Linked DNA regions of Homo sapiens. The protein of the gene in region 2 interacts with the protein of the main gene of each other region in a pairwise test. Each region holds a gene or a part of one and is shown on either strand. Other genes may lie near its edges. The genes, in order: DNAJB6 and MLF1.

Evidence for each region.
Region 1: the proteins of MLF1 (region 2) and DNAJB6 interact in binary tests that used the Homo sapiens proteins (3 or more experiments, as listed by UniProt).

The regions. Positions count from the first base shown.
Region 1 is NC_000007.14:157,360,679-157,364,505, reverse strand, and holds part of DNAJB6 (dnaJ homolog subfamily B member 6), read right to left. Parts: intron 1,346-3,827; coding exon 1,236-1,345; intron 1-1,235. UniProt on the Homo sapiens protein: Has a stimulatory effect on the ATPase activity of HSP70 in a dose-dependent and time-dependent manner and hence acts as a co-chaperone of HSP70. Plays an indispensable role in the organization of KRT8/KRT18 filaments.
Region 2 is NC_000003.12:158,604,252-158,606,960, reverse strand, and holds the end of MLF1 (myeloid leukemia factor 1), read right to left. Parts: intron 1,865-2,709; coding exon 1,759-1,864; 3' UTR 1,013-1,758; coding exon of another isoform or gene 991-1,012; 3' UTR 505-990; downstream 1-504. UniProt on the Homo sapiens protein: Involved in lineage commitment of primary hemopoietic progenitors by restricting erythroid formation and enhancing myeloid formation.

The DNA.
Region 1 (3,827 bases), on a different chromosome or scaffold from region 2:
GAGTTCAAGGCCTCCCTAGGAAACATAGCAAGATCCTCTCTCTTTAAAAAAAATAAACTTTCCAATGAATAAGCTCAACAGTTCAAGACCTTAAATGCCACATTTCAAGAAGACTTCAAATATCGGTGTTTTTATGTCTTTTCATATTTTTTGAAGTAAAATGTTTGGAATTTCCTCTAAAACAAAGGGGGTGGGCCACAGTGTCACCAGAGAAAGCAAGGCTGGTGGTGTGCTGGTAGCTGTTGAAGGTGGCAAGCTTACACTGGGTTCCTTCTGATTGGTTTGGTTTTGTTTTGTTTTTTGGAGACAGTCTCGCACTGTCGCCCAGGCTGGAGTGCAGTGGCGCAATCTCGGCTCACTGCAACCTCTGCCTCAAATTGGGTTCTTTAAAAAAAAAAAAAATTTTTTTTGTTGTAAATAAGGGCCAATTACCTGACCACATGCAGATACACTTAACCAAGTGCCCACTTCCAGGGTTCAGTTAGTCCATCCCTAACCTTGGAAAAGCCTCGGCCTTTGCTCACAACAGGCCACCCAGCACTGCAGCAGACAGGGGCACTGTGTGGCTTTCCAGTTCTGTCACTGTTCCCCCACCCCAGGCCCCATGCACAGCCTTTACTTCCCCCATGGAACCCTGACTGCATCTAGGCGACAGCTGACCTCTGACCCCTCACCCATTTGTGAACTAGGCCAATGGATCTGACTTCCAGTAACATAGAACACCTCTGCTCCAGACCTAGGAGGGGAAAACAGGCCTGAAACTGGAAATCTAAATTTTAGCTGTATGTTCCATCCCCTCTTTTTGGGAACTAATGACATCCTCTCAAGCAGTAAAGCTGACTCCACTGGAATGGTATTGTTTAAGCCAGTGGGGGTGAGCAAGGTCAGAATGATCACACACAACGGGGGCAAGCACGCCACATGCACAGTGACCTGAGTCCCGCAACCTCCTCTCTCCCAGGTTCCTCAAACCCAGGATGTCTAGTCCCGCTTTTAAAACAGCCATCCTAGGAGAAACTACTAGAAGCCCTGGAGCTCCCCAGCACTCGTGGTTACCTAAATCAATTCAAATCTTCACGAGAAAAGTAAAAATCTCTTAGAAGGGCCCAAAATCCAGTAGGCATCAAAAACAAGTCACTTGAGTCCATACTGTGCTACCCTGAGGAGGATCCCAACACCCACTCCGCATTCCGGCATGCCCGCTCAGGGTCCTTCAGCAGCTCGCTGTCACTCACCATCCGACAGCACTTCATATGCCTCCGCTACTTGCTTGAATTTTCTCTCTGCTTCTTCTTTATTCTCAGGATTTTTATCTGGATGCCACTTCAGTGCCAGTTTCCGATATCTTGGAAAGAATAAAGGATATAGATCACATTCTAAATCCAGAAATCAACTATGCTTTTGAAACTAACATCATTAACCACGAGAATGGCTTCAGAGCTGCCAACTGGTGAGATGAATACTGGTTTTAACTGTAAAACCTCCCTTTCCTCTACAATGAAATACACAAAGTTCTAAAATCCAGATAGCCAGGCGTAGTGGCGTGCAGCCACAGATAGACCCAGCTACTCCAGAGGCTGAGGCGTGACAACTGCTTGAGGCCAGGAGTTCAAGGCTACAGTGAGCTATGATCACACCACTGCAGTCCAGCCTGGGCGACAGAACAAGACTGTCTCAAAATTAAAATTGTAAAAATACTCATTAAAGTAAGTTTTAGAATAAAAATCCTGATAGCATAATACAAACGAACCTCTAGAGATAGAAAAATAAAGATCACAGTGTCCACAACGTGGACTGACAGTGACAAGACTGAGCAAGTATGTGAAGTAAAGGAGAAAGGCCAGGCGTGGTGGCTCATGCCTGTAATCCCAGCACTTTGGGAGGTGGGCAGATCACCTGAGGTCAGAAGTTCGAGACCAGCCTGGCCAACATGGAGAAACCCCAACGCTACTAAAAATACAAAATTAGCCGGGCATTGTGGTACTTGACTGTAATCCCAGCTACTCAGGAGGCTGCGGCAGGAGAATCACTGGAACCTGGGAGGCAGAGGTTGTGGTGAGCCGAGATCGCACCATTGCACTCCAGCCTGGGCAACAAGAGCGAAACTCCGTCTCAAAAAATTTTTAAAAAGGGAAAAAAAGGCCTGGGTCACTGAGCAGCAAGATCCAACATCACCATTCATATCCTTCCATGTTCTGATTCCCAGGACCCTACTTCCTCAGCCAGCCCCACTACCTAGCTCATCTGTGTGCCAAAGGTGAATCACCTGCCACCCAACAGGCCAGGATCTCAGAATCTTTCAAACACCCTCTGTGCCAGATTCAAGATCTAAACAGAGTTAAAACACTGACTTCTACAAAGATTCTATGACCAAGGTCATATTCTGTTGCAGAGTTCCAACTGACCAAATAATTGCACGCTATTTAAATACAAAAAAAAAGGCCGGGTGCAGCGGCTCACACCTGTAATCCCAGCACTCTGGCAGGCCGAGGTGGGTGGATCACCTGAGGTCAGGAGTTCGAGACCAACCTGGCCAACATGGCAAAACCCCATCTCTACTAAAAATACAAAAAGCCGGACATGAAGGCACGCACCTGTAATCCCAGCTACTCAGGAGGCTGAGACAGAAGAATTGCTTGAACCCAGGAGAAAGAGGTTGCAGTGAGCCAACATCGTGCCACTGAACTCCAGGCTAGGTGACAGAGCGAGCCTCCGGCTCAACATGAATGCATGAATGAATGAATGAATGAATGAATGAATACAAAAAAATCCTCTAGTCTAATTAGCAAAACCTAAGCAGCATATATTCAAAAGGAGGGTAACGTTAAAAAAGAGAAGCAGCATACCCCTCAAAATTTCAGACTAGTATACTAATCTGACAGTGCTTTTAACACTAGGCAAGTTATTACTGTAAAGCTGTTGTGGCTCAATTTAACTTACAACATGTTCAACAAAACCTTGGCTTAACCATACTAAAATCTGATTAAAGCTGGAGTCCAGAATACTTAACAGTAATTTATGTCACTGTGGACCTAAACAAACATGTAGCAGCCGGGCGCAGTGGCTCATGCCTGTAATCTCAGCACTTTGGGAGGCTGAGGCAGGCAGATCACGAGGTCAAGAGATCGAGACCATCCTGGCCAACATGGTGAAACCCCGTCTCTATTAAAAATATAAAAATTAGCTGGGCATCATGGCAGGCGCCTGCAGTTCCACCTACTCGGGAGGCTAAGGCAGGAGAATCGCCTGAACCTGGGAGGCAGAGGTTGCAGTGAGCCGAGATCACGCCATTGAACTCCAGCCTGGGTGACATAGCGAGACACCGTCTCAAAAAAAAAAAAAAACGTGTAGCAGTGGATCAAATAACCCTAAATGTGCCAGAAATCCTCAGTCAAAAATAACAGACCATACAAAAGACAAAAGAGAAAAAATGATTAGTGTGCAGTACTACCTATCATCTAGTGTTCATATGAAAACTTGGCAATGGATGAGAATGCAGGACAAGATTCAACTGTGTATGCCCCAGTCATACACTACTAAAATATTTAAAAATCAAGGTGTAATACAACACGATATGCAAGTGTAAACAGTGCCAAATGACTTTGAATGTTGACCTTCAGATCTGTTGGACCTGCACACCAGTACTTCAGCACCAAGGAAGGAAGGCCCATGGTGTGTGACTCAAACCCAGGAAGAGTCTGGTATCTCAGGAGAGATGCAGAACAGGTGGCAGCCACAGACCTTTAAGTCTTCAATCAAAAACTGTCAACACACAAAGCCAAGGGTACACAAGATAGACTAACAGCACGCCCCCATAGCTATCATTC
Region 2 (2,709 bases):
CGCCCGGCATGTATATAGTTTTAAATAGTTTCAATTTACAGACTAACAGTATTAAACACCCATCATAAGAAGTTGTTGCAAACAAATATTATTCTGGGGTATAGATATCGATAGTTATGTTTTTATGGTGCAAAGATAGAGTTGACTTTTAAGAAAGAAACAGAACTTTTCTCGGTACTACCATCTCAAATTCTGCCTCACCACAATCTCTAACTGCAATCTGATGTACAGGAATTATACTGTTAAACACAATTATTTATTAAAGGGTGTTTTTAGATTTGACTACAATGATTCAAGTTATCATCAGTGTAATGATTTAGGCAAAAGGAAAATCAAGTATGTACTTTATTAAGACTTTGCTCTATCAGGTTAATTTATATCAAGATGTTATTTAAAATGTGTGCCTTATGACAATTTCCCAATGTGTTATGGTATGTTAGGAGTATACTAAAGTATGCCTAAAAGGAAATTTTTAACTAATACATGCTCAATTTCAACAATGAATTAACACATTTGCATTTTATTTTAATGACTAAAGGCATAAAACACAAACTAGTAAAATTAACAAAAATATTATATAAAAAATTAGAGAAGTATGAACATAGTCATATAATTTTACTTACAAAATTGAAAAGAAAAATACTTAGGATTATAGAGTGATAGCAATTTTTGGGGGCTTTTTTCCTTGACAGAAATATTAAACAACAAATGTGAGTTAAGATTTTATATTCTTATAAACTTCAAACCTAACTTTTATAAGAACAGACTGATGCTTAAATTCTAGAATTAAAAAGCTAAAGCTGATTTTTAATGGTATAATTAAAACAGAAACAACTGAATTATTAAGACGTTGCTCAAAAACACCCATCAGCTGTCTAACAGATTTTGAGACAATGTATCATTCTGGTTTGGAGAATACCAAATGCATTTTTCTAAATGTCACAAAAAAGCTGAGCAGAGTTTCTCCAAGGACTCTCCAGCTTCAGAATGTTAACCTTGGAGACAGATGAAGCTGTTTGTGGGAAAGGAGAGTAGAAATATGCCACATTAAGAAGTTAAAGAGAATGGTCAATATAATATCTGGTGAATATTAAGAATGTAATATAGAAAAGATACATTCTATAAATAAATTATAACCAAAACAATCATGTACATTAGCAATTTAAAATATTTTTCTCTGAAAATGAACTATTTGATTATCCTTGCCCTTTATCAAAATAGTAACTATTTTCTCATAAAAGAGTACTAGTGTAGTTTTGCTTTATTATTTTTAAAGTTTTAAGCTAGTTGGCTTTACAACACATTATAAAATTAGAGATAAATTATTTAAACCTTTATTAATATCACCCTAGTACAGTGTTAGTAAAAACTGAGACTTTTTTAACATTATAATTTCTTATAACTAATTATAAGTGATAGAACTGCTCTGCAATCAATCTTGATAAATATAAAAGAATATTTAGCCAACACAAAAACAACTGGGGAAGCGAAATAAGCATATAAGCTTTAAAAAATTAGTATGTTTTAAAGAGTTTTACATTAAATAGACTCAATTTACTCACATTGTTGAAAATCAAAATTTTATTCCTAAAAGAGGGACAATATAAAGCTAGGACCTTCATGAACATTCAGATATCAGAAGAAAGTTGCCAAGGACAGAACTGATTTAACAGCAAGAGATTGGTCTTATGCTTATTACCCAGCACCATTACTAACTGTTAAAACAATCAAAACTAAACAAATCAAATGCATGGCTATTTATTTTTTGTTGCTTTTCACAGATGAGCCTTTGATGTGGAGTTTGTCCCCCAAAACATTTGATCTCCTTCCATGTTCAATGGCTGGACTTTGTTGAGGTTTCTCCCTGAGAAATATACATGTGAATATTAATATCATTTAAAAAATGGCCAATGGTTTATAAATCAATACAAACATGTTAAAAACCACTGTAATATAAGAAAAGTTTTATCTTAAAAATTCCTTAATGGCTTTGAAAAACAAGGCTGGCCAGGTGCGGTGGCTCATGCCTGTAATCCCGGCACTTTGGGAGGCTGAGGCAGGCAGATCACAAGTTAAGAGATCGAGACCATCCTGGCCAACATGATGAAACCCCATCTCTACTAAAAATACAAAGATTAGCTGGGCGTGGTGATGCGCGCCTGTAGTCCCAGCTACTCAGGAGGCTGAAGCAGGAGGATTGCCTGAACCTGGGAGGTGGAGGTTGCAGTGAGTTGAGATCGCGCCACTGCACTCCAGCCTGGCGACAGAGCCAGACTCTGTACCCCCTGCCCTAAAACAAAAAATAAAAAACAAAAAAAACCAGAAAATAAGGCAGACTATTTCAGTGAATTTAAGACAGCAACAGCTGTTTTCCTGTTAGATTTAACTGTTTATAGTTTAAACACTGTTTAATGTTAACAGTATGGTAGTCACTAACCACATTTATATTTGAATTAAAATAAAATAATTCAGTTCTTCAGTTGTACCAGCAATGCTTCAAATGTGAATCAACAGCCACATGTGGCTAGTGATTACTACACTGGACAGAATAGATATATAGCATTTTTGTCATTACCGAAGTCATTTCAGAAAATGCCATTGGACAGTGCCGGTTAAGAGAAAATGCCACTGTTAGGGCCAGAAATTTATAGGTCATCCATAAAGAGCATGCCTTCTCTAAGTGCGACCTGGATTTCCTATTCAAACTTG